Homo sapiens: one gene and its partners. The protein of the gene in region 4 interacts with the protein of the main gene of each other region in a pairwise test. Each region holds a gene or a part of one and is shown on either strand. Other genes may lie near its edges.

Evidence for each region.
Region 1: the proteins of COL26A1 (region 4) and ANXA8 interact in binary tests that used the Homo sapiens proteins (3 or more experiments, as listed by UniProt).
Region 2: the proteins of COL26A1 (region 4) and IQUB interact in binary tests that used the Homo sapiens proteins (3 or more experiments, as listed by UniProt).
Region 3: the proteins of COL26A1 (region 4) and GABPB1 interact in binary tests that used the Homo sapiens proteins (3 or more experiments, as listed by UniProt).

What each region holds. Positions count from the first base shown.
Region 1 is NC_000010.11:47,474,114-47,481,147, forward strand, and holds part of ANXA8 (annexin A8), read right to left. Parts: intron 5,776-7,034; coding exon 5,685-5,775; intron 4,629-5,684; coding exon of another isoform or gene 4,515-4,628; coding exon 4,420-4,514; exon of another isoform or gene 3,130-4,419; intron 3,082-3,129; coding exon 2,968-3,081; exon of another isoform or gene 2,967-2,967; intron 2,210-2,966; coding exon 2,119-2,209; intron 1,991-2,118; coding exon of another isoform or gene 1,953-1,990; exon of another isoform or gene 1,478-1,952; intron 1,460-1,477; coding exon 1,380-1,459; intron 892-1,379; coding exon 832-891; intron 286-831; coding exon 192-285; intron 1-191. UniProt on the Homo sapiens protein: This protein is an anticoagulant protein that acts as an indirect inhibitor of the thromboplastin-specific complex, which is involved in the blood coagulation cascade.
Region 2 is NC_000007.14:123,454,562-123,461,595, reverse strand, and holds part of IQUB (IQ motif and ubiquitin-like domain-containing protein), read left to right. Parts: coding exon 1-239; intron 240-4,029; coding exon 4,030-4,215; intron 4,216-4,319; coding exon of another isoform or gene 4,320-4,403; exon of another isoform or gene 4,404-7,034. UniProt on the Homo sapiens protein: Adapter protein that anchors the radial spoke 1 (RS1) complex to the A microtubule of outer doublet microtubules in axonemes. The triple radial spokes (RS1, RS2 and RS3) are required to modulate beating of the sperm flagellum.
Region 3 is NC_000015.10:50,296,191-50,303,224, forward strand, and holds part of GABPB1 (GA-binding protein subunit beta-1 isoform beta 2), read right to left. Parts: intron 6,934-7,034; coding exon 6,739-6,933; intron 5,179-6,738; coding exon 5,067-5,178; coding exon of another isoform or gene 5,031-5,066; intron 4,713-5,030; coding exon 4,599-4,712; intron 1-4,598.
Region 4 is NC_000007.14:101,554,869-101,559,552, reverse strand, and holds the end of COL26A1 (collagen alpha-1(XXVI) chain isoform 1 precursor), read right to left. Parts: intron 3,767-4,684; coding exon 3,682-3,766; intron 2,184-3,681; coding exon 2,023-2,183; 3' UTR 529-2,022; downstream 1-528.

The DNA of each region.
Region 1 (7,034 bases), on a different chromosome or scaffold from region 4:
CCCTCAGTGTCTCGGATCAGAGATCGCACATCAATTTGCCGCCCTGACCTCCCACTGGTGGCTGGGGAAACAGTCCTGGGCTCCCTGGCTCTCTCCCTAACTCTAGACTTGACAAGGCAGAAGCACGAGGGAGAGGCTCATGGCCAGGACACCCCCTGTGGCCCCGGCCCCAGCCCCTCCCTCCCTGGTACCTCTCAGCAGGTGAGTGGCACTGCGCGTGCACAGGATGGTGATGAATTTCATCTCATCAGTCCCACGAATCTTCTCGCCTGCCGCATACAGATCCTAGCATTGGGACACCCACAATAAGCCAGTGAGGGAGACCAGGGAGGTGAGGGACTGAGCCCCAGAGTCCCAGAGCTGTGGCCATGGCCTGGCCCTGTCCACTCTGCCAGGCCAGCATGCTCCCCTGCTTGGTCGTCTCTGACAGGGAGCTCCCCTTTCTCTAGCAGCTCTGGCTTAGAATATTTTCTCTATCCTGGGCCACAAGCTGCTCTAGGAACTGCCTGGTCCCCAGACTTCCCTCTGCCAGCAGGCAGACCTACAGAGACCCGGACACCTGTGTCCAGCACTGGGGCCTAGCGCCCCCGGGTTCATGGGCTGTTCCTGCCAGGACAGAGCTTTAGTGCTCCCCCACCCCCAAGTCACACTCCTTCCTCCCGAGTCTCCCAACACCCTCACTCTCCTCCCCAGACACCACAGGACAAAGGCCTATAGGGAGCTGAGCTGGGTGGGTCCCAGCCCAGTGTCAGAGAAAGCCCCCGTGGGCAGAGGAGCCGGAGTCCAGATGGCAGGGGGTGGGGCCACATGGCCGGCTGGGCGCAGCCTCACCTGTGCGTCTTGGAGGGCCAGTCCTGGGTCCACAAAGCTGCTCACATCATCCCTGCTGCCCTAGGAACAGAGGAGGTGGCTCTGTAAGGCAGGCCAGCTGACCAGAGCATTAAGGGCACAGGGGGGATCCTGGGCTTGGAGGGCAGGCATGGCTCTGCTGCTCTTTGGCTGTGGAAACTTCGACAAGCCAGTTATTCTCTTCAGCCCTTGGTTTCCTCATTTGTACAATGGGGGTGGTAAGGACTGCCTCATAAGGCTTGGCGGATTCAGTGAGCTAAGGTAAGCAAAGTGCCTGGCATGAGGCCTGCACGAAGGACCTGCTCTCCTCCCGCTTCCAGGATGCTCTCACATGGCTGAGTAAGGACAGGTGTGGGGGCTCTGCAGTTGGGACCCTCTAACCATGCTGAGACACACCCAATGAGCCCTGGCTGCTGGGCTATCCCATGCCCCTACCCTGACTCTTGTGGCGCTATTCAAGGGCTGCTCCCTGGGGTGGAGCTGTTGGGACTCCCAAACCAAGGCACTCCCAAGAGCCTAGGCTGTGACACCTGCAGGAGGCACACCAGGATCCTCTCCAGGTAGCCACTTGTGTCTGCTTGGATGTCCTCCTCCAGGCTGGACCCATAGTCTGCAGGGAAACAGGACCATGAGGCACAAGCAGAGGCCCACAGCCTACCCGGGGCCTGCTTTCCTCCTTCCAGCCCTGTTCCCCATACTTCTCCTTATTAAAGCCTTCTAGGAAAGAAAGTCCTTGGCACAGGGCATGGATGCAATGCCCGGGTGTCCAAGTGGCTGTCGCCTGGGTGGTGCTTCACAACTAGAAGCGACATGCGTACCCAACCAAGCTCAAAGCACAAGATGGACCAGGTCAGAGAGCCAGGCTAGGGGCTGCCAACCAAGCTCCATTTCATCTCAAGGCTTGGCAAAGCCAAAGCCTCCAGGAAAACTCCCCACTAGGTACATGATGTGGAGGACTGACTGGCCTCTGCTAGCCTGGGGTCCACACCCCCTACTACCACAGTCCTCAAGGGCAGAGATTTTAGTTGGTCACAGGCCTCTCTCCCCTGTAAGAGGAGCTGGTGAGCTTACAGATCAAGTCTGAATCATGTTCAGTGTCACCATCAGGCACAGATCTTGGCATACGGTAGGTGCTCAGCACCTGTGGGTAAAAAAGTCCCCAAAGGGTCCTTTCTAGTGTGGCCCAGGTTAATTCTTGATCCTTGTTCCCTGCCAGGCTGCCAAAGCTTGTGGCCACTCCTGAGCCCCTCCATCTGTGCCACCCCTTACCTTCCTCATACGCCTTCATTATCTCCCGCAGCTGGTTCTTGGTCCGAGAGGCCAGGATCTCAATGATGACACCCTCCTTGGTTCCTAAGCCCTGTGGACAGAAACCTCTGCCTGCTGGAGTGCTCTGCCATGACCTTCTGCTCTGTCCACACCTTCTTTTCTCAAGATGCCTGAGCCTCAGGAAGGACCTCACTGCCCTGCCCCACTTGAAGTGGGAGGATGTGATGAGAAAATCACATGCTTCAGTGATGAACATTGAGGGCAAGTGCTGTGACGGGGAAGCCCTGTCTCAGCTCTCCCTCCTTAGCTGGGTGGTCTCAGACAGGCTGCTCCATGTCCTGGAGCCTAAGCATCCCGATCCATAAACAGGAATAAGAAGCCTCCCCTGCGCCAAAGATAGATTAGGGAGCGTGGGTGTAAAATGCCTGGCAGTGCCCATGCAGCAAGTGTCTTTCCAAACAAAATGACTATAGTTACTGGGTCCCCATCCTTATTAATCTGCAAAAGCAAAGAGTAGTGAGAGGTAAAGGGAAACCCAAGGGGCTGTGCCTGGGACTGTAGAGGTGGGTTTCCAATACCACTGTACACCTGAGCTCGTGAGGTTCTGAGAAGTACTGATTTTGGCTTCATCACGGCCACTCAACGTGTCAATCAGGCACCAGTGACTCCAGGTGTTGGGTGCAGTCTGAGCAGCAGGCTGCCTGCTCACTGGGCCCAGTTATGGCCCATATGGCCATTCCAAACAGTGGCTCAAGGGGAGCTCTGGGCTGTAGGTTCCCGGTCCCCGCATTGCCCCTACCCAGTCATGTGAGCACCCCTGCCACTCCCCTGCCCTGTCTGCCTGGTTACCTTCATGGCGTCATGCAGCTCCTTGGCTTCGTATCTGTATGGCGGGTACATAAGGGCCACAATGAGCCTCTCAAACTTGCCACTGAGCTCAGACTTCAAGGTCTCAGTGAGGTCCTAATGCGGGAACAGGGAAAGGTGATATTTGTCATAAGCCAGGCCCACCTGAGTGCAGGCAGCGGAGTGGTGGCTGGGTCCAGGGGCTTGGGCTGGATTCTGCGTGGGCCTTGCCACGTGCTGGCTGGGTTTCTTGGGCCAGCTCCTTAGCTTCTCTTAGCATCAGTATCTTTACCGGTTACACGGAGAGAAACGTGCTCCTGCTTCATCCCGTTGCTTAGGGGGTTGTGTGTGACTCAATTCAGCATTCAGTGCAGTGCTGGGCACATCATAAGCTCTCAGTAAAATGAAATTGGTATTGCTAGCTAGACTGCAAGCTCTGAGTATGGCATCACCATAAAATACCTGTCACTTGGCACTCAATGAATGAATGCATGCCTGAATTAAAGACTTCGTCTCACATGTGCCTCCTTCTAAGGTCACATGTTGCTACGAGGAGCCACCAGGCTACATCAGCTGATCTACAGAGCAGCAGAGAGATCAAGGGCTTTGTCAGACCTGGATTTTAATCCCCACCTTGTTGATTACAGGCTCTGGGACCTTGGGCAACTTAAAACCTCTCTGAGTGCCAGTTTCCCCAAATGTTTGAATACAAAGAATGTATCACTGTGAGGACTAAGAGAGGGAAACTGTAAAAATGCATACTGGGTTCTCCAAGAGAATATTTGAGCTGATCTTCCTTCGTTACATCTCCAAACTAATGATATGAGTCACTAGAGGCTTGAGGCAACCATGGCTGTGCACATATTTAATCCTGTGTTTACTGTGTACCCCCAAATGTCAGGCTTTGTCCTAGGGGTGGAGTGCAGGTGGGAGGAGAAACAAAGGGCCTGGCATGCTTACTCCAGGCTCTTAGAATTCCCAGGTGGCAGAAGGGACGAGGTGTGGGTGCAAGCAGCTCGACTGAGGAAAGCATGCCCACGCCCCAGAACAGAGCAAAGCCAGGCCTGCATGCCTGGGGCATGGAAAAGAGAAGGTGGTCTGGGCTCAGAGGGCAGGGCGAGATAGCCTGGGGGCAGGGAGACAGACCTCCAGTGGGGCCTGTTGGGTGCATGAGAAGGAATGCTGTGAGAGAGGAGGCAGGAAAGGAAGCAAGGAAGGCCAGCCCCCGGCCCGGGCTCTGACACCTAAAAGTAGATCTGCCAGATAAAACACAGGGCAGCCAGTTACATTTGAATTTCAATAAAGAACAATTGTTTTCATGCAAACATGTTCCATGTGCCCATGCTGCCAGTGGGCTGGCTCTAGGGGAAAGTCGTCCAGAATGGAGCTGCCTCCCAGGCTGTACCCCCAACCCCAAGGCTCACCTATCCCCACCCCCACCAGCCTTCCCCTTGCCTTGCCGAACTGAGCCTTGAAGGACTTGGCGATCTGCTGCCGCTGCGTGTTGCTTCTCTTGGTGAGCACATCGATGATAGCCTGCTCGTTGGTCCCTGCAGGGTTACAGCACAAGTGACCCTGCTGCCCCCAGGGTGACACACTGGTGAGGGCGGAGGAGGGGAAGGCGAAGGCAGCTGCTTGGTGGCTGAGCAGTTGGGACCCGACACCTGGATAGTTCCAAACCCCCAGACCATTTTCGTGGTGTAAACAAGACCCTTAGGAAATCTGCCTCCCCATTTCCCACCCCACACCCCCACAATGTTGGGGCGTGCCCAAGGCCAGCCTCACAAGATGGAATCTGAGGTCTGGGTGGCTCTGGACATCAGCCCGGGCCTTTGGAGCTTGGCCGAGTGAGATCTCTGGCCCTGCCCTCCTTTGTGTTGGTCGCAGTAGGGGAAGGTCAAGACTAAGAGTCCAACCCCTGAATCCGAGGCCTGGCCCAGCAACTGCGTGGCATTGGGCAGCCAGCCTCATTTCCCTGGGCCTCCGTTTTCTCATTTGGGAAGTGGAGATAACTTTCTGCTTCACAGAAAGCAGAGGGCATGAGAACGTTTTCTGGGCTTGTCAGGAGCGGCAGTTCTCATTAAGGCCCCTGATCCTCAGGCAGAGCCGGCTAAGGGGTCAGTCCCACCTGGGGTGAGGTCAGGGTACATGCTCTGCTCTCAGGTCAGGAGGGCTTTCTGGGCAAGCTGTTTAAATCTGGCCTCAGGCCAGCCCTCGCCCACTCACGGTAGTGCTGAGGGCAGCACTGGGCAAGTGCAGGAGATGGGAAGGGAGCCGGCTCCATGGCCATCGACATGGGGCAAGGGGGCCTTGAATCAGCCCCACAAACTCCCAACACCTCACACCCCTGGCAGCTCTGTGCCTGGCATCATAAAGCACCACCCCCTTCACACTTCATGTGACACACAAGGCCAAGAATTCTTGGGGCCACTTTACAAGTGAGAAAGCTGAGACTGATGGGAAGTCACTCACAGAGACACACAGCTCACCTCCCCACCCCCATTACCCAGGGAAGAGCAGCACCCTCCTGTCCAGTCTTGCAGGGTGGGTGCTGACCTCACTGCAGAAACAGAGGGCTGTGTGATTCTCTGGGTAGTGGAATCAGTTTCAGAGTATCATGGGACACCCCAGCTCCCCAGATGTCCCCTGGCACCCGCTTTCCAGGGCTGTGAGCGGAGGGGTCTTGAGCAGAGGTGGCAAGGCTGCCAACACCCACTCACCGATCCCCTTCATGGCTTTGTAGAGGGTCTCTGCATCAGGGTCTGGGTTGAAGTGGGAGCTGCTCTTCACTGTGACACCCTCCTGTTCAATCTGCAAGAGAACCAGGCCTGCTCAAAGCAGGCAGGGACAGGGAGGGCAGAGCAGGCTCCCAGCCCATCTGGTAGCCCGCCCTGACAGGGTGAGCCCCTTCCCTGGGCACGGAGATCTGCTCAGCCCTTGCAGGCCAGTGCTCTGCCCTTCAGCCCCTTGGCCAACAGGGTGGAGTAGCCAGAGCCAGAGCTTGTGGGGAGAAGCCACAAAACCTTTCCTGTCCCTGTCTGTGCCATCTGACTGCAGACAGCAGCCCCAGCCACACCCAGCTCCTTCCAGCATCACCCACCAGCAGCAGGAAGGGACAAACTCACCCAAAGTTAGGAGGGGAAAGAACACTGAAGCAAAGGCTTCCTGGAGCTGCATGCACCACCTTCAGAGTGTGCAGATGAGGTTGGAAGGCTGAGCATGGTTCTGCCTTTCTGAGGAATGGTTTGAGCTCAGTCTGCCCTCTTCCTGGGGAGTTGGGACTTACAGCAACTTAGAGGGCAGGGGCCCAGCTGAGCATATTGATAGTTCAGGGTGTTTGCAAGTCCACAGGCCCATGGGGCTCAGAGCGTCAGGTTTAGAAAAACCCGCACGATGCTCTGCAGATTGTGAAATAAACCAGATAACCAAGTGCCTGAGCCCTTGATTTCCAAGCCTCCAGTTCAGGGCTTGCCTGAAGGCTCTTTAAACTTGTGCCCTGCAGAATTTCTCAGATGATTAACATGGACATAAGTGTGTTTTGGGTGGAGGAATGGTAGAGAATGGAGGGATATTGGAGATAGGTATTGAATTAGAGGGAGACTCAGAGATCCTCCAGGATGAAAAAGAGTTTAGTCCCATCCAGTCTTGTCTTCCATTTACCTGTTCACTTATTCCTTCCATCACCTCCATCATCTGCCCATCTACTTTCCCACCTACGCACTTACCCATTTGACTACCACATCCATCCATCCATCCACCCACCCATCCATCTATGCACCCGCCCATCCATCCATCCATCCATCCATCCATCCATCCATCCATCCATCCATCGAAGCCCTGGGTTAGATTGTGAAAATACAGAGATTCCAATGGATGGTATATCTGTAAGTATCTTTCCTTTGAGTAAGAGGTAAGGCATCTTTCTGAACTCTTTGCTTTAATTTCAAATGTCTGGTGACAGATCTTCCTGAGTCATTTCTTAGCACCATGTTTCACAGCAGAAATTGTTAGAAATAATTCCTATGGAAATTCCATCCAGAGAGAGCCAGTGTGGTCCCAGATATTGCTCA
Region 2 (7,034 bases), about 22 Mb from region 4:
ACCCATTGAAATTTTATAAGAAGATTTACTTTTGCCACAGTTGCCAGCTTTATTTGCCTTCTACAGAATTTTCTGTATCATCCACCTCACGCCGCATATACCGGTGTCGTAACTGCATTAACCTTCAGAATGAGGCTCAAAAACGAGAATCATTTTTGAAGTACAAATGTTTACTTCAACAGCTCTACTATACAGAAGCTGATTATGAAGATGATTCTAAAATTGCTTTCTTGATGCAGGTATGGTCAATAAGGGGTGCCAATTATAGCTGAAGCTTGTCAAGGAGGCTATCTTGCAATCTTATGTATGTTTGTGTGTGTGTGTGTGATTGTTTAATGACTCTCTATTCCACTAGACTGTAAGCTCTGTGAGGGCAGGAGTATGCTTTTTTTCCCTCCTGCTCACCATTATACCTCTATAACCTAATACAGTACCAAGTTTTTATTTAAGGCCCTCAATATTTGTTGAATGAATGAATGACTTTTACAGAAACTGATGTTACATATACACATACTAGTGTTTACGAATAACAGTAATAATTAGTGTAAACCAAATGTGACCATAATGGTAAATAACACCAAAAGTGAAAGCTAAGGCTTATAGAAAGTAAAAAAAAAAAAAAACCTTAGGGAAAGGCTTTGATACTTGTCTATGTAAAGTGTTGATATGATACCACACAACTGGAAAGTTTCTGGCCAGAGTTCTTTTGGATGAATCATTGCATTGGATCATTGACCCTACGTAATCTGCTTCTCGTAAGAACTTCTAGCTCTGTGAGAGGGTGGAGCCTGTGAGATCAGGAATTCTGACCTGAATTCCTAACTTAACCACTACTTCGGTCTCTTTGGTTATTCCATGTCTTCTATTGGGTTTAGGCCAGAGGATAGTCTGTGTCTCTACAAAATAAAAACAAATTCCTGACACTGTTTGGACTTAGGTAAGCAAGTGAGAAAACAGAAGGACTTACTTGTTGTTGATATGGCTACCCAACATTAGCCACTTATTAATAAAAGTATATTATAGAGCACAATTGACCTCATTAATGATATTTGTGTTCACAGACTGTCAAATAAGGGCAAATTTTCTGTAAATTAGTTACTAATTAAAATGAACTAAATTGTATTTAATACCAAATAGGAAAGTAGGCACTACTATGAATAGAAAACTTTATAGAGATTAAAAAAAAGATACCAAATGTGATGTGCTTTGTTAAAAAATTCTTCTAAATCCATAGCTTTCAAACTTTTAAATCTCAATCTATAGTAAAAATGTATTTTTATGACAACCTGATATAGGCATGCATGATAATTCTCAATACTCAGTACCTATATGGCTTTACACACTTTATTGAGTTAATCAGCACAAAAATCCTATCAAAATAGGCATTATTTCCATTCTGCAGGTGAGGAAAGGGAAGCACTGAGTGGTTAACTAACTTGTCCAAGTTTACGCTACTAAGTACCAGCACCAGGATTGAAAACTAGGCAGTCTGATTCCCAGCATCCGTACATGTAAACACATGCTGTTCTGCCTCAGAAATAAAAGTTTCCAAAATAGTGTTTATCTTTACCCCTATGGATGTACTCTGATATTTTCTATTCAATCTCAGTCTACTTATTCTGATTTCCATTTGGAAAACTTTGGTATCACCCAAGAGGTAGCAACCCACAGTTTGAAAAGCACAAATTAAAATGATTACATATTTTGTCCAATAGAATGAATATTTTGTTAATAAATTTGATGTTTATTTCAGCTTAAATTCTTATTTGCTACTTTTATTCAGGAATTATTGACATGACAGATGTATATTTCCTTGTAGAGAATCTTAGATGTACTAGGGCTTTAATGTAAGTCACCAAGAAGTGCTGGCTCAATATTCCATGTTGTATTAGTCAGATTTCTCCTGAGAAACAGAACCAATAGAAAATGTTATACATATATGTTATATATATATACATATAAGGAGATTTGTTACAAGGAATTTGCTCACATAATTGTGGAGGCTGGTAAGTCTAAAACCTAAACAGCTGATGGCCCAGTTCAAGTCTGATGACCAGCAGGCTGCTATAGAGCCAGGAGGAGCCAGTGTCTCAATTCAATGGCCATTAGGCAGAAACAGTCTTCCTTACTTGGGGACAGGGTGAACTTTTTGTTCTATTCAGGCCTTCAACTGATTGGATAAAGCCCACTCACATTATGGAAGACACTCTGCTTTACTCAGTCTACTGACTTACTTAAATGTTAATCTCATCCAAAACTACCCTCACATAAACACCAGAATACCGTTTGACCAAATATCTGGGTATCCGGTGGCATCATCAAGTTGATGTAAAATCAACCATTACACATATTGAATGAAAAAATTCTAGGGGAGCATTGTAACCTTTCAGATAAGGATAATCTCCATTAGATGTGATTTAATTTCAGTACCGTATCTATGTAGGGTTTTGGTCTATTACTTTTCCAATGTCTAGGATTAGCAGACAAATATGAGTGTCCAGTAGCTTCCCCCCCCTTGTAATTGGTGTAGTTTTGATTAATATTTATTTCAGTAATAGTATTTGAGGCATAATTTGAATGTTTGAACATTCTCATAAATAGTAAATCTTGTGGACAACAGCAAAGATTAGCATATGTTAAATGTGAACATGATGCCATGTAAAATGAAAAGGTGAAAGTTAATATATATAAAAAGTAAACATTCTGCTTAGACAAGAGATTTGAGTGTTGTACTAGTCACCTCGTTTATCTGTAATGCATACAAATACTGCCTAATATAATAGGCAATAGTATTGCTCTGTTACTGCAAAAATTTCAAGTACAATGACTACTTGAAAGGTAGAAAGCTCTTAGAGACTGTCAACCACACTTATGTGCACATTTGACATTTACATGCAAATAAACACGTTATTCTGTATGATACAATTTCAAAATTATTAGTACAGTTGAGCAACTAAATTAAAAACAAAAATGTAAACAAGATGCATTTTGAATGTAAGTAAAATATATAAAACATTGAATTTTAAAGGTCTATAAATTTATTTTTCATAGCAGCTGTGTACAGAGTATTGTCTTTTTTAGCATTAAGTAAAAGCTAGAATGCATTAGTTGAGCTTAATATATTGAATTACCAATTTATGAAATACTGTTGTAGCTGATGATGACAGGTTCTTTTTGTTTTTTACTTTGGCAGATTGTTTAGGTTTTGTGTACTCATTTTACAGAAAATATTTCTGCTCTCACACTTTTTCACAGAAGCTTTTTTAAAAAATATTCTTTTTACATGCTTATACTTTGTTGAGTTTGTCCGTCTCTGGCAATTCTAAATTTATAATGCAGACCCCATGATAAAAAGTCATTCCAAGAGTTTTAGCTGATAAGATTTACGTTTTTTAAAAAGTTTTAAACAGCTATTTCATTACCCCTCTTTTTGATTAAAACAACCAAGTCTTTTAATTAACACTAAGTGAATTACTTATCTTTATTAAATCTCAACTTCCTGTGTTTGCTTCAGCAGCCCATATACTGAAATTGGAACCATATAGAGAAGATTAGCATGGCCCTTGGACAAGGATGACATGCAAACTTGTGAAGTGTTCCATATTAAAAAAAAAAAATCTCAGCTTCCTCATTTGTAAAATGGCAGTAAAAGGTTTTAAAAGGTCCCTACAATGGCCCTGAAATTAAGATGGTACTTACTAATGAATTTTAAAGATCATTCAATACCATATGTTTATTATGGTAACATTATAGTATTATTAAGATTATATTCAGGTAAAATTAGCATACTGAAATGAATTTATACTGCTTACTCTGGTTTAGAGATGGGGACGCAACTGTGAGACTGATAATGTAGTTTAGGCAAAATGAACAGAAGTTTAGTGAAAAATAAGGGGCTATGTGTCATTGAAACCTAGTGAATAATAATTCACTTAAAAATACTCTATAATTTAATTATTTGCTCAAGTAATATAATAATCTTAAACAAATTTAAACTACATTGTTTTTAAAACTTGCTTTGACATGCAGCTACAAGACATTCAGTACCTGACAGAGAACATCTGGGCGTCCCAGTCAGTCCTCAGTGCTTGCGACAATCTCAGTGATCTGGTCATGGTCAGATGGAATAAATCCCTGGAGTGGTCCCCCTGGAACTGCATTCTTCTTACCAAAGATGAAGCAGCTGCTCATCTCAAGCTAACAAGTATTGAAGAGGTAAGAAAGTTGAATTTTATTTGGGAAGTTAATTTAATCATTGGAATTATTAGCGATAACTGGACTGCCTTCTAATATATTCCATGCTTAAATACTTCCATCAGATTAAGAAACAGAACTTATGGATTAACAACAAAAAAATTTATGGATGGCATATATGGCACAGATTAAATAAAAGGTATATATAAGAGATTTGAACATATTACAAGTCCTAAACATCATACCAGTCTCTCCTAATAGTAAGTTTAAGCACATTCCACGGTAAATTCCATGAAGGCAGTGATTTTGTTTGGCTTATTTACATCTATTTCTCTAATACCTACAATACTGCCTGTCACAGAATGGAGTTTATAAGTATTTGTTGAATGAATAAATGTGCATTACCACCAGATAGGTATTATGGAACCCAGAATCTGTCCTTCTTTGATTAATTATCATGAGTCTGCTTAAAAACACCCAACTCTCAAATTTTGTTCATAATTTTGTGCTCTAAATAGCAATCATACTGATGGGGTGTAGTTCTGATGCTCCATTTTTCATTTGCTTCCAACTTGCTGGGAGTGGAGCAAGCACTGTAAACATTAAATGCCATTTACTGTAATTTTAGTAACTTACATGATGCAATCTGTAAAACATTTTGATGGGTAAGTTGAGGGACTCCTGAAGAGTTCGTAGAGAGCTCCATTTACACTAGGTCCAGGATCCCGAGAGTTAATACTGATTCTCTGCATTCTTTAATTCCACACAAGGTGTCAGCTAAAGGAAAGTAAAGAAATGACAAAATGCAGTAGTCGTTTAAAATAGTGTGATTCCCTGTTTGTTTTTTTTCAGTGGAACAAGGGGTGATGAATATAAAGATAAGAAACTAGCTAAAGTTTTAGTTTTTAAATATTTTTTTAGTTTTAAGAAGCCAGGCTAAGAAAAATTTCACTCTAGGGATTGAAAGAAAAGGTAGCAATAAGTTGAAGCTGTATTAAATGTTATATTTAGTAAACTAAGCTGCCTCATAAATATTTAATCACAGGAAGCATAGTCAATACTAGCAATATCATTTCATCTAGGACCCATGATGAGATTGAAGTTCATTCCCAAAGCTGATATTCCAGTGCTTCTTCAATTAATCCACACAACTCCCTTTGTGCATTTAATCAAATTACTGCAGTATCAAATTAAATGTTCTATTCACATGCATTTCTAATTTAGAATGCCAGTCTTATCGAATTTCTGTAAAGGGCACCAAGATTTGCAAGCAGACAAACTGGAAAAACATTTGCCTTTTTTATGGTTTTGGGCTGATACAATCTTTTAACTATTAACTTTCAGCCCAGTTAAAGAGTAGTTTATATCTTGCAGAAAGATGGAGCATTTTCAGAATTTTCTTAATGTTCAGAGATATTTGCTTTCTTAAGAAGTTAAAAAAATACTTGCAAGTTAATATGAAACAGGTATAGGAAACGTGGAAAAACACTTTCGTTAATGTGAACTTTAAGTGGAGCAGATTGATCTCTCCTTGTGTGCACACTGGCCAAAGTAGGAACAATCATGGACTTAAAATCAGTAATCCTGACCCAGTTAACTCAAATCTCTGTCACTGACAACTTTACATTAAAACCTTCCCTCTTTGCTTCATAAATTTTTAGAAAGATTAGCTAAATAAGTGGAATCAGTAAAGAGGATAAAAGCAGCTCTGGCTCTGAATTCTAGCTTTACCATTCATGAGCTGGGAGAAATTGGACAAATTTGTGAATGTCTCAATGACCCAGCTTTCTCGTCTATAAAAAAGAGATAATGGTATCTCATCATAGGGAAGCTTTGAGTAGGCCATTATTTAAAGCTTTCTGCATAGTTTTTTTTGGCATGAATAAACTTAGGTAGTAACTATGAAAGCACTTTAAAAATTTTTGATGCATTTTATTTTTAATTTTAAAGCAATATATTATTGGCTTAGAATCTGAACAGAATAAAAAATGTAATGTAGAAAGTAAAGGTCTCAGAGGTTGAGGGAACAGGGAGAGATTTGTTAAGGATACAAAAATTATAGCTAGATGGGAGGAGTGAGTTCTAGTACTGTTCTGTGGCACTGTAGGTTGTCTATAGTTAATTACAATATATGGTTTCAAATAGCTAGACGCAGCATATCGAATGTTCCCAGCACAAAGAAATGATAAATGTTTGAGATGAATATGCTAATTACTCTGATCATGATATATGTATCATCCCATCACTATGTACCCCGTAAATATGTACAATTATTATCAATTTAAAAAATTTAAAAAACGACTGAATGAATAAATAAAGGGAGGCAAATAGACAAATCTCCCATGTAGAATTCCAAATAATTTATGTAGATACTCTCCACTCTTAAGGAGATGGAGAATAACTCTCTACCCTTTAAATGTGGGCTGTACATAATAACTCCTTTCCAAAGACTATATTATGGATGGAAGGGGAGGACCTTTACAGTAGAGAAACTTGACAAACACTACCTCAGCCAGGTAATCAAGATTAACAGCAGCAGTGCTGTCATGCTGATGGTGTGTACCCTTGATATGATGTGAGGAGAAGGGCACTTCACCCCTGTGGTCTTCCTCCCCAAAACCCATCCCTTCAGTCTAATAATAATGAAGAAAACACAGGACAAACCCAGATTGAGACACATTCAGGAAAATGTGGGTGTGGGGTATATGGGACCTTTCTGTAATATTCTTAGAACTATTTGTACACCCAAAGAATTTGTGAACATAGTTTAAAACCATCACATGGCTATTTCAAGAGAATGGACCTTATTTCAATGGGAAAAAAGGTCTCTTGATGTCCAC
Region 3 (7,034 bases), on a different chromosome or scaffold from region 4:
GTTTTGTAACCAGGAAAAATGTGTATTGTACCACTTAGCTAGTAAAAGAAAAGAATATGAGCAGGAACAATGAGTGTACTGATGGAGCTTACACTATATTTTGGTCAACATCATTTAAAAAGGTCAAAAAAGTAGCAGAACACTTATTTCAACAGACTACCTATTACTAGAAAAAGCTATAGAAACAGATACATCCCAAAAGTAATAGCGACGCTCTTGCTTAAAATAAGATAAAATGAAAATTACACAAATAATTCAATATTGTGTAATTCAAATATCTCAAACCAAATTATAAACGTTCTAAAAGAGCCCAGAGATCATGTGAATAAACTGCATAGGAGAGATGGTACATTATAGAGGTCACAGACATATACCTTGGGAATCAGTCAGACTGACCAAATCCTCCTTTCTCTACTTAATAGCCATATGCCCTTTGATAAAATTATTCAACCTCCACAACCTCCAATTCAACCTGTTTCATTATATATAAAATGGAGGTCCCACTAATGTATTTTCCAGATTCTAACAAGCCCTTGAAAAGATATATATAAACATTTCGAGAATCAGGATGAGTCTGACGATAGATTTTAAAGAAACTGGACAGCCAGAAATCAGAGAAATAATCTGTGGTAGATTTAGCTTTGCCTGAGTATGTGCAAATTGAGCTTTAAGTTGTTTACTCTGGTGGTAACATACTTAAACTTTAACTTAATTCTTTTTTTTTTTTTTTTTTTTTTTGAGACAGAGTCTCCCTGTGTTGCCCAGGCTGGAGCACAGTGGCACAATCTTGGCTCACTGCAACCTCCACCTCTGAGGTTCAAGCGATTCTCCTGTCTCAGCCTCCCGAGTAGCTGGGATTACAGGCATACGCCACCACATCCGGCTAATGTTTGTATTTTTAGTAGAGATGGAGTTTCACCATGTTGGCCAGGCTTGTCTTGAACTCCTGACCCCAAATGATCCACCCACCTCGGCCTCCCAAAGTGCTGGGATTACAGGTGTGAGCCACTGAGCCCACCCATTACTTCTTTTTTTTTTTTGAGATGGAGTCTTGCTCTGTCACCCAGGCTGGGGTGCAGTGGCACAATCTCGGCTCACTGCAACCTCTGCCTCCCAGGTTCAAGCCATTCTCCTGCCTCAGCCTCCCCAGTAGCTGGGATTACAGGGGCACACCACCACACCCAGCTAATTTTTGTGTTTTTAGTAGAGACAGGGTTTCAGAAACATGTTGGCCAAGCTGGTCTTGAACTCCTGACCTCGTAACCTGCCCACCTCAGCCTCCCAAAGTACTGGTATTACAGGAGTGAGCCTGCGCTCCCGGCACTTCTTTTTAAGTAAGCTTTTAAAATATCTTCAAAAAGATTCCACTATGGGCCGGGTGCAGTGGCTCACACCTGTAACCTCAGCACTCTGAGAGGCCGAGATGGACAGATCAGAAGTTCGAGGCCAGCCTGGCCAACATGGCGAAACCCCATCTCTACTAAAAATACAAAAATTGGCTGAGAGTGGTGGCGTGTGCCTGTAATCCCAGCTACTCAGGAGGCTGAGGCAGGAGAATCGCTTGAACCCAGGAGGCGGAGGCTTCAGTGAGCCAAGATCACGTCACTGCACTCCAGCCTGGGGTGACAGAGTGAGACCCTGTCTCCAAAAAAAGATTCCACTGTGATGTCATATTGAAATGAAAAATTATTGTGCTCATAGAAGATTTTAAGTCACATGCAATAAAAACTAACTGAAATTACTAATTCTCTCAGACTAGACCAAAACATTTTCAAAGGTTAAGAGAAGTTAGAGAAATTGGTGTGGCCATTTCATGGAGTCACACATTTAAATGTCAAAATTTCCAGCTGACTTAGAAGAAAAGCCGTTTTACTTTCAGATATATGTGTTTTTGTTTTCGTTTTTGTTTTTTTGTTTTTGAGACAAGGTCTTGGTCTGTCACCCACGCTGGAGTATAGTGGCGCGATCACAGCTCACTGCTACCTCTGCTTCCAAGGCTCAAGTGATCCTCCCACCTCAGCCTCCCAAGTAGCTGTGAACACAGGCACCTGCCACCATGCCCAGCTAATTTTTTCTGTAGAGACAGGATTTTGCCACGTTGTCCAGGCTGGTTTTGAACTTCTGAACTCAAGTGATCTGCCACCCTTAGCCTCCCAAAGTACTAGAATTATAGGCATGAGCCACCACACCCGGCCAGAGGTAAGTTATTTAATTAAAGAAAAGAAATTTACAAGTTTAACCAAATAGAAACCACCAATGAAATCAGTTTTCTTTGCTATGCTTCTGCAATTACATAAGTATTAAATAGATCCAGGCATAGGTTATAAAAGCAGCATGTTAGTATGATGATGCATATAACTGCTAATGGCCAAAAGTGATTCATACAAATCTTAAGACTCCCAAATATAAAGGCTTGGATTCAAACTTAGATTATAATGCTACAGAAGCTAAAGAATGGATAAATGTTATTTTCAAAAAGAGGCTGGGCACAGTGGCTCATGCCTGTAATCCTAGCACCTTGGGAGGCCGAGGAAGGCAGATCACTGAGGTGAGGAGTTCGAGACCAGCTTGGCCAACATGGTGAAACCCCGTCCCTACTAAAAATACAAAAAATAGCTGGGTGTGGTGGTGCATGCCTGTAATCCCAGCTACTGGGGAGGCTGAGGCAGGAGAACTGCTTGAACCTGGGAGATGGAGGCTGCAGTGAGCCAAAACTGTACCACTGTACTCCAGCCTGTGTGACAAAATGAGACTCCATGTCAAAAAAAAAAAAAAAGAAAGAGAAAAGAAAAGAAAAAGAGAAAAGAAAAAGGTAGCATTCCCCCAACTCCTCCAAGTCAAGAATATTACAGTAATATCCACCTTAAAGCTTTCTGGTGAGGAATAAATGAGATTATAAGTAAAATATTTATCACAGTGCCTAGCAGAGAGAGTAAGCATTTGATGAAATGTTGTTATTATTGATCAAATTTTGAAAAAACACTAATTTAAAAAATGAATGACAAATTATTCTTTGCTTTTATAAGCACTGAACCAAATATAATGGCTTAAGCTACAGAAAAATATTTTCTTGGAATTTAAAAAATTTCCTAATTAAATTTTACCGACATAATAATTACATCAAGAAGTATTTTGGTTAAGTATAAAGGTAAATCTTGTATAAACCAAATGTTCATGAATACTGTTTGTCATCATTTAACAACAGGTAACCCTTTCATTTCTTTTTGAGACAGAGTTTTGCTCTTGTTGCCCAGGCTGGAGTGCAATGGCGTGATCTCGGCTCACCGCAACCTCCACCTCCCGGGTTCAAGCCATTCTCCTGCCTCAGCCTCCCGAGTAGCTGGGATTACAGGCATGGGCCACTACGCCTGGCTAATTTTGTATTTTTAGCAGAGACGGGATTTCTCCATATTGGTCAGGCTGGTCTCGAACTCCTGACCTCAGGTGATCCACCCGCCTCAGCCTCCCAAAGTGCTGGGCTTACAGGAGCAAGCCACCGCACCCAGCCAGGTAACCCTTTAACAGTGGTTTCTGTATACTATTTCCTAGTTCTATCAGTCATTAAGATTTTATAACACTCTAGTAGAGCTGCTAAAAATTAAAATTTATGAAAAAAGTGTTTTTTGGTTTTGGGTTTTTTTTTTGAGGCAGGGTCTCATTCAGTCGCCTAGGCTGGAATGCAGTGGCATGATCTTGGCTCATGGCAACCTCTGCCTCCCAGGTTCAAGCGATCCTCTGACCTCAGCCTCCTGAGCAGCTGGGACCACAGGAGTGGACCACCACACCTGACTAATTTTTATATTTTTTGGTAGAGATAGGGTTTCACCATGTTGCCCAGGGTTCTGGGCTCAAGCAATCCACCTATCTTGGCCTCTCAAAGTGTTAGGATTACAGGTGTGAGCTACCATGCCCAGCCAAAGTGAGTTGTTTAAACAAAAAGTCACAAACTAGTAAATCAAGAGCCAAATTAGAGACAGGGACATTTTTTTCTGTGAGCCACACAAGTTTTGTTTTTCAATTAGTTACCAAGATTTAATGTTCTTTTAAAATCCAGATTCACAGCTTCCTATTAAAAAACAGAATTTGGGAATACTGGACTGATGACTATAATCAGCTAGAGTTGAGTCACAGATGCCTCCCTGCCCTTGCCCCATTCTTCAGCCGGGTGTAATCTCAATCCTGCCCACTTTAGCCTTTTATTGTCTTCCTGGCCTTTGTAAATATTTGAATCTGCAACTGTTTTTGGTTTTTTTTTTTTTTTTTTTTTTTTGAGACAGAGTCTTGCTCTATCACCCAGGCTGGAGTGCAGTGGCACAAACTCAGCTCACTGCAGCCTTCACCTCCCGGGTTCAAGCAATCCTCCTGCCTCAGCCTCCCGAGTAGCTGGGATTACAGGCCATGTGCCACCACGCCTGGCTAATTTTCTGTATTTTTAGTAGAAACAGAGTTTCACTATGTTGTCCAGGCTGGTCTCAAACTCCTGAGCTCAGGCAATCCACCCGCCTCGCCCTCCCAAAGTGCTAGGATTACAGGTGTGAGCCACGGCACCCAGCCTGAATCTGCAATTTTAATGTACACATTAGACTCGTTTTTCTAACCTGGAGTTTCTGAAGAATTGGACAATGGAGCAGATGCTTCAGCTAAGGCAGCTAATGTAGCTAATACTGATGTAGAAGAGTTTCCAAACTGAACAGCAGATACACCCGTTTCATCTGTAAGAAAAAAGAAAATAGATTTGAATTTCTAAGGAGCTTAATCCAATGCATATTTCTGATATTCTATTTATCTTACTGACTCTTAAACAAAGCTTGGATAGCATTAGCTTTTGAAAGGTAATACTGCAGTAAATTTTGTAATATCACCTTTCTTCAGATTGTTTTGTCTCATAAAAATCTTTTTGCCAGTTATACCAAAGAAAACAAAGGTGGCTGATAGAATCTTACCCTCATTCTCCAACCGTCCTTTCTTACAAGGATGAATACCTACTAAAGCATAAAATCCCAAAGCCTATCCTATATGCATCTCAATACCTGTTGCCTTGGATGAATTTTCTGAAGATACCAGACCTGTTAGGTTCACCACCCCTCCAGGTCCAATGATAAACTGTGGTGTTGCAGCATGTATTGTCACAGTGTCAGGACTCTCTGGGTTTGTGTTGATTTGGTTCTGCATAGCAATCTAGGGAAAAAATGACCACAGTGTTTTCAGAATTATAACCAGAACATATAGCACAAATTCTCCATATAATACAAACACATATAAAGGAGTATTCTCTAAGAAGAATCACATAGTACAAGTGGAAATATTTGTCTAAGGTCCACTGACAGTGTAGGGGCACATCATGGGTATATATTTATATCCCAAGTCCCCCTCTTAGGTAAAGCAGCAAAATCCTGGGAGAGGAGAAACGAGTATCTAAAAGGTTTTTAACAGAACACAGAACAACTGGACATTAAGCTGGCTGAGGTGGCAGGTGCCTGTAATCCCAGCTATTCAGGGGGCTGAGGCAGAAGGAGTGGTTAAGCCCAGGAGTTCAAGACCAGCATGGGCAACATAGTGAGACCCCCATCTCAAAAAACAAAAACAAAAACAAAACAAACAAAAAATATTTCTGCCCTGTAGCTATAGGAATTTAATTATTTCTTCTACGTTTGGCAATACATAATACCACATATATAAAGCATGTCCTTCTCAATTAATTGTTCCCCATCTTCAACTCCAACCCCCAAACTGCACTCTTAGGAGTAAAAGGAATGAAAAGAGGCATGGTAGAATTCATTTTCCTGAACATAAAACATCTTTTAAGTAACTAGTGGAAGCTCAAAGGAGTCAGATAGTCTTAGAAAAGAAGAGTTCTACTGCTGGGATTGGGAACAAACAGGCAAGAAGAGGCAGTAATTAAAGAAGATAATTTATATTATGTCATCTGGCTGAAAATAAGAGAAGTAATGTTGGTTACTAGAAAAATCTTCCCAAAAGCCAAAAACAACAGATATTTTTGAGGATGCTGAAAGATAAAAGAAACAAATCAAACTGCATCACTCACTCAAGGAATGATATTATGGTTGCTAATATATATGTTTTTTAATTTTTATAAAGTCATTTATAGTAGACTTGGAAAAACCATATAGTATCAAAATGCAACAAAAATAATAGAATAAAATGTCTAGGGCCAGGCGCAGTGGCTCACGCCTGTAATCCCAGCACTTTGGGAGGCCGAGGCAGGCAGATCGCCTGAGCTCAAGAGTTCAACACCAGCCTGGGCAACATGATGAAACACCATCTCTACTTAAAACACAAAAAATTAGCCAGGCATGGCAGCATGCACCTGTAGTCCCAGCTATTTGAGAGGCTGGGGCAGGAGAATTGCTTGAACCCAGGAGGCAGAAGTTGCAGTGAGCCAAGATCGTGCCACTACACTCCAGCCTGGGGGACAGATCAAGACTCTGGCTCAAAAAAAAAAAAAAAAAAAAAAAAAAGGTCTAAAGGGAAATTCAGAAACTTAAAAAACAGAAAGTAATCACCTTATCTAATGTTAATGAAGAGACTGGCCTTATAATCAAGAAAATGAATAGTAATAAACAAAGAGGAAGTGAAAGAGAAAAAGGCCTATCCAAAATAACTAAGTCCAAAATGAAAGGCTACAAACAATAGTTTAAATCATGCACAATATAAGAGATCCCTCTACTGATAAGGCTTCTTTTTCTTTATTTTCTTAAATTAAAAGCCAAAAGTTACCTGTAATATCTCTGCTAAATCTTCATTTCCATTGTCTATTGAAATATCAAATGCAGTTTTACAAAATTTACTTTGCGTGTGTACATCAGCACCATATTTGATTAAAAGTTCCACCACCTCTTGATGATTGTGTTCTGTGGCCCAATGGAGAGCTGTCATCTTTAACATGTCCTTTGCATTGACATCAGCACCATGCTACAAAAATATTTCAAAGAGTTTACTAAAATATGAAATATCACATAAAAAATTCCTGATATGAAATTATTAGTTCTGTGCTTTAAAGCAAGAACAAATAA
Region 4 (4,684 bases):
CCAGTGTGCCATGTCAGTTTGCCATCACCATGGCAACACTCAGGAGCCACTGCCCTTTTCCATGGCAAAGACCTGATGACCCGGAAATAACCACCCTTTCCCTAGAAATTTCTGCATAAACCAGCCCTTAATCTGCATGCAATTAAAAGTAGGTATAAATATGGTGCAGAACTGCCCTGAGCTGCTATTCTCTGCCTGGGGAGAAGCCCTGCTCTGCACGAGCAGTCATGGAGCTGTAGTCCTGCCCCTCCAATAAAGCTGTTTCTCTTGCCTCCAGCTTGCCCTTGAATTCTTTGCTGGGTGAAGCCAAGAGCCCTTGCAGGTTAAGCCCCAATCCGGGGCTTGCCTATCGTGTGTCACTCCCAGCCCCCTCCCTGGAGGTCCTGAGGGCAGAGCTGGACCTCCCTGCCACAGAGGCCCTGTGGTCACCCCGGGCCTGGCTGGAGCTGCTCACAGCTTCCCTGGCACCTGGCCGGTAAGATGCAGACCAGCCTCCTGCAGAGCTGTCACCACACAAACAGACCCACAGTGGGGAGAGCACCTTTATTGTCACATATAATAATAACGCTACAGGCTGGTGGTCCCGCCCGCCTCTGACCACCCCTCCATGAAGACAGAGACTGCCTCTCCAGACCTGCCTCAAGGGCCAGAAGAAGATCCCAGGGCCCAGAGGGACCAGGCCACAGCCAAACAGGAGTACCAAGAGCACTGGAGACAGTCACTCCTGCTGTGAAGACAGAGTGCCCCAGGGTGGCGCCAGCACCTTCAATTCTCTGAGTTTGCTGCCGTGGCTGTGTCCCAGGTCCCAGCCCAGCAAGAGAGGAACACCAGGGCTGAGCTGATCACGGAGACCCTGGCCCCAGAGGCCTTGAGGGCTCCAGTCAGAGCTGTTCTGGGCTGCTAGGGACCTGGTGCCTGCCATGGAGCCTGCCAGGCCCCCAACTCTGGAAGGTGGGAGGCAGGAGCATCTCTTCCCAGCAGGCCTGGGACTCTGTTTCCCTCTCTGCAGCTTGCAAAGGGGACACTGGGCTTGCTGTGTCATGCAAAAGTAGCAAACCTATAGAGTCCACTGAGAGACAAACTCGTGGGGCAGAGGCTGCAAGTCCCACCTCTGATAGACATGCCCATGAAATGCTGCCTCCCCTGGCTCAGGGATGGGATGGACCCAGAGAGAGCGGGTGGGCTCAGCAAGACTGGGAGGCAGTGGCCAGGGATGCCTATCTGGTTTGGTGGACACTTGCACCCCCAATGCTTCTCTCTCAAGGTCCTCAAGTCCGTATGGCTGGCAGTGATTTATTCAGGGTCTCCCTGGCCTCTGAGAGCTGCAGTCCAGGCTGCTCCCCCAGCCAGTGGGGAAGGGGGATGAGGAAGGGAAGCCCCAGGCCCTGCAGGACCCTGCCTACCCCCTCAGGCTGGCTGGCCCAGCCTCCCCGCAGCCCTGCCTGCCTTAAGGAGCCGTTCTGGCCCTGCGCCCTCCCTGTCTGAGTTTTCTCTCGAAGAGGGGAAGCTGGCAGGGTCGAGAGAACATGGCTTCAGGAACTGAGGGTCCTGGGTTCAAATCCTGCCCCTGCCACCCGTGATCTGGTGGCCAAGAGAGGGTTATTTCTACCGTCTGAGCCTCGGTCCCCTTGTGAAGTGGGGATAATAAGCTTACCTCCTAAGGGTTAAATAATGAGACAACGTAACGAAAGTTCCCTGGACAGGGCCAGTTACAGCAGGGACTCAATAAATGATGGGTATTAGGATTATTCTCATTCCCAGCACCCAGCCCACCCAGACCCCGTCTCCAGCCGGGAGTGGGGGTAGGGGAGGGGACAGGCCAGAGGAGGGCTCTGATGAGGGTGTTGGCCCCTCCAGACCCTGCCCCTGGAGACATTATCTGTCCCCAAAGCCCCCCATGTCCTCACAATCATCCATGCCTGGAGCCCAGTTCCCCTGGGGGCATCTTTAGGAAACAGCGGCGGCTCAGGCCTCTGGGGCTGGGTCTCTAGCCAGGACAGGGTGTCCTGGAGCAGTGGGCTCTCACTTCCTGCTGCTGGCCTGGTCCACGCTCTTCTGTCCAGGGTCGGGCCCAAGCAGGGCAGCAAGGACCCCATCGGGTTGGGCGCCACCCCTCTTCATCTTGAGGTTGGCTCTCAGGGCAGCATCCTGGCCAGAACCTCCCTCTGGGGAGGCCAGGGGATCTGGAAGGAGAGCAGGAGGGTGGACTCGAGGTAGAGCCTTAGGAACACTTGGGGGTACATTTGATCATGATATGTGGCCACGGAGAGATGCTCTTGCCCAGCGTGGAGAAGCAAGGCAGCAGCAGGCTTTCAGCCCCTTATGCATTCATTCATTCATGGATCCATGCATCCATCCATTCATTCACTCATTCACCCATCCACCTGTCCATTGACCCATTCATCCATCTGTGTATCCACCCATTCATCCATTCACCCATTCATCCACCCACTCAGTCACTCATTTATCTATGCATCTATCCATTCATTCACTCATTTACCTGCCCGTCCATCCATCCATCCATCCATCCATCCATCCATCCATCCATCCATCCATCCACCCATCCATCCACTCACTTATCCACCCACCCACCTATCCACTCATTGATTCATCTATGCATCTATCCATCCATCCATCCATCCATCCATCCATCCATCCACTCAGTCATTCATTTATCTATGCATCTATCCATTCATTCACTCATTTACCCATCCATCTATCATCCATCCATCCATCCATTCACTCACTTATTCACCCACCTACCTGTCCACTCACCCGCCCATCCACCCATTCATTCATTCATCCATGCATCTATTCACTCATTTACCCACCCACCTGCCCACTTATCCATCCACTCATTTATCCACCCACCTGTTCACTCATCCATCATCCATCCATCCATCCATTCACTCATTCACCCACCCACCTGTCCACTCATCCATCCATCCATCCATTTATCCATCTATCCATCCACCCATTCATTTATTCATCCATGCATCTACCCATCCACTCACTCATCCACCTATCCACCTGTCCATTCAACAATTCATTCATTCATTCATTCATCTATCTATGCATCCACCCATGCATACATTCATCCAGGCAACCAGCCATTCGTTCACTCACTCACTCACCCACCCACCTGTCCATTCACCTATTCATTCATCCATTCATTTTCCAGCAAATGCTGATGGGCCTCTACTCCAGGCCCTGCAGAGGTATCATTCACTGTTCTGCACAAGGGACTCCCAGAGGGTCACAGAAACCCCAGCATGGAATGGAAGCCTCCCCTATGTCACCATAGGGACAAAGAGGAGGGTTCAGAGAAGGCTTCACAGAGGCCGAGATCTTTGAGCAGGTCCCGAAGTGGCAGTCAGTGTTCACCAGGCAGAGGCATGGCCCGAGCAAAGGCATGGAGGTGGGAGGGGCCTCAACATGGCTGGGCAGGGCTCTGCCCACCATGGCTATACTAGGGAGGGGCTGGGAAACTGGGCTGATGCACTTGGAAGTCTGTCAAGGGCAGCAGGGAGCCACTGAGGGTCCTTGAGCAGGGGAGGGGGAGGGTCAGACTAGGGGCAAGGGAGGGAGACCAGAGACCCTAGGCAGCAGCCATGAGGGCAGCATTGGGAGAGGAAGGAGGGGAGAGAGATTCCCAGCCCGCTGATCCTGGTCACTGCTCACCGTGGATCCCAATCATGTGCTCCAGGATGAGGACTCGCTCTGCCAGGATCTTCAGGGCCTCTCTCAGCTGCTGCACCCCCTCGCCCTGGCGGGGAGGAAACAGGCAGGGTCAGGGCCGGCCATGAGGAAGGGGTCAGGGCCATCCTGATACAGTGACAGTGTATGTGTCCTCAAAGCCCCCCACCCCTGCCTCTTCCCACCCGACACCCTCACCACTGCAAATAAGCATAGACTGAACATCATCAACTATGTGCCAGACAGGGCTTCAAACCCTGTTCACAGACAAAGAGCTTGAAACACAGAGAGGGCAGGCAACCTCCCCACGGCCACACAGCCTGGCAAAGCGGCCGATCCAGACTGCAGATCCACACCTGTCAGCCTCCAGCCTGAGCTTTTCCTTCCACCATAGCTGCCTGTCAGCTTCCCCCACATGTCCTGAAAATACCCTAACCAGGACAGAGCACCTATCCCAGGGCCCGAAGGTAGGAAGTTCTTTGCTTGTTTCCTTCCTTGAATGCCCAAGAGCTCGCCACCAAACAGCAGGCAAGGGGCAGGGTAGGTGTGGCCATGCCAGGCAAGAAAGACAGCAGAGAAAGCCACCATTTCAAAGTGCAGGCAGGCAGGCTGGCGTGATGGCAGAGTCTGTATTTCAAGGGCCCGGTCTGCACACAAGCAGAGGACCTTGTGCACAGAGACACCTGAGTCAGCCAAGACAGGGTGCTGACTTATTGAGAAGGCAGGTGTCGAGGCCACTCTGAAAAGTGATGATGAGGAGACAAAGCCACTGTCCCCATCCTGCCCAGCCCTGGGAGTTGGCAGCAGAATGGGTGCCTTTTGCTGGTGTAACATGACAGATCTGTCTTATGTTCAGATTAATTTAGCTTAAAATGAAACAAAAGGAAACCAAAAAGCATCCTACTGGGTTATAGGAGAAAGGTCTGCCCACCAGGGGACCAAAGACAATGGGAAGTTGAGCCAATTACAGGGTCTGGGACAGGGATGT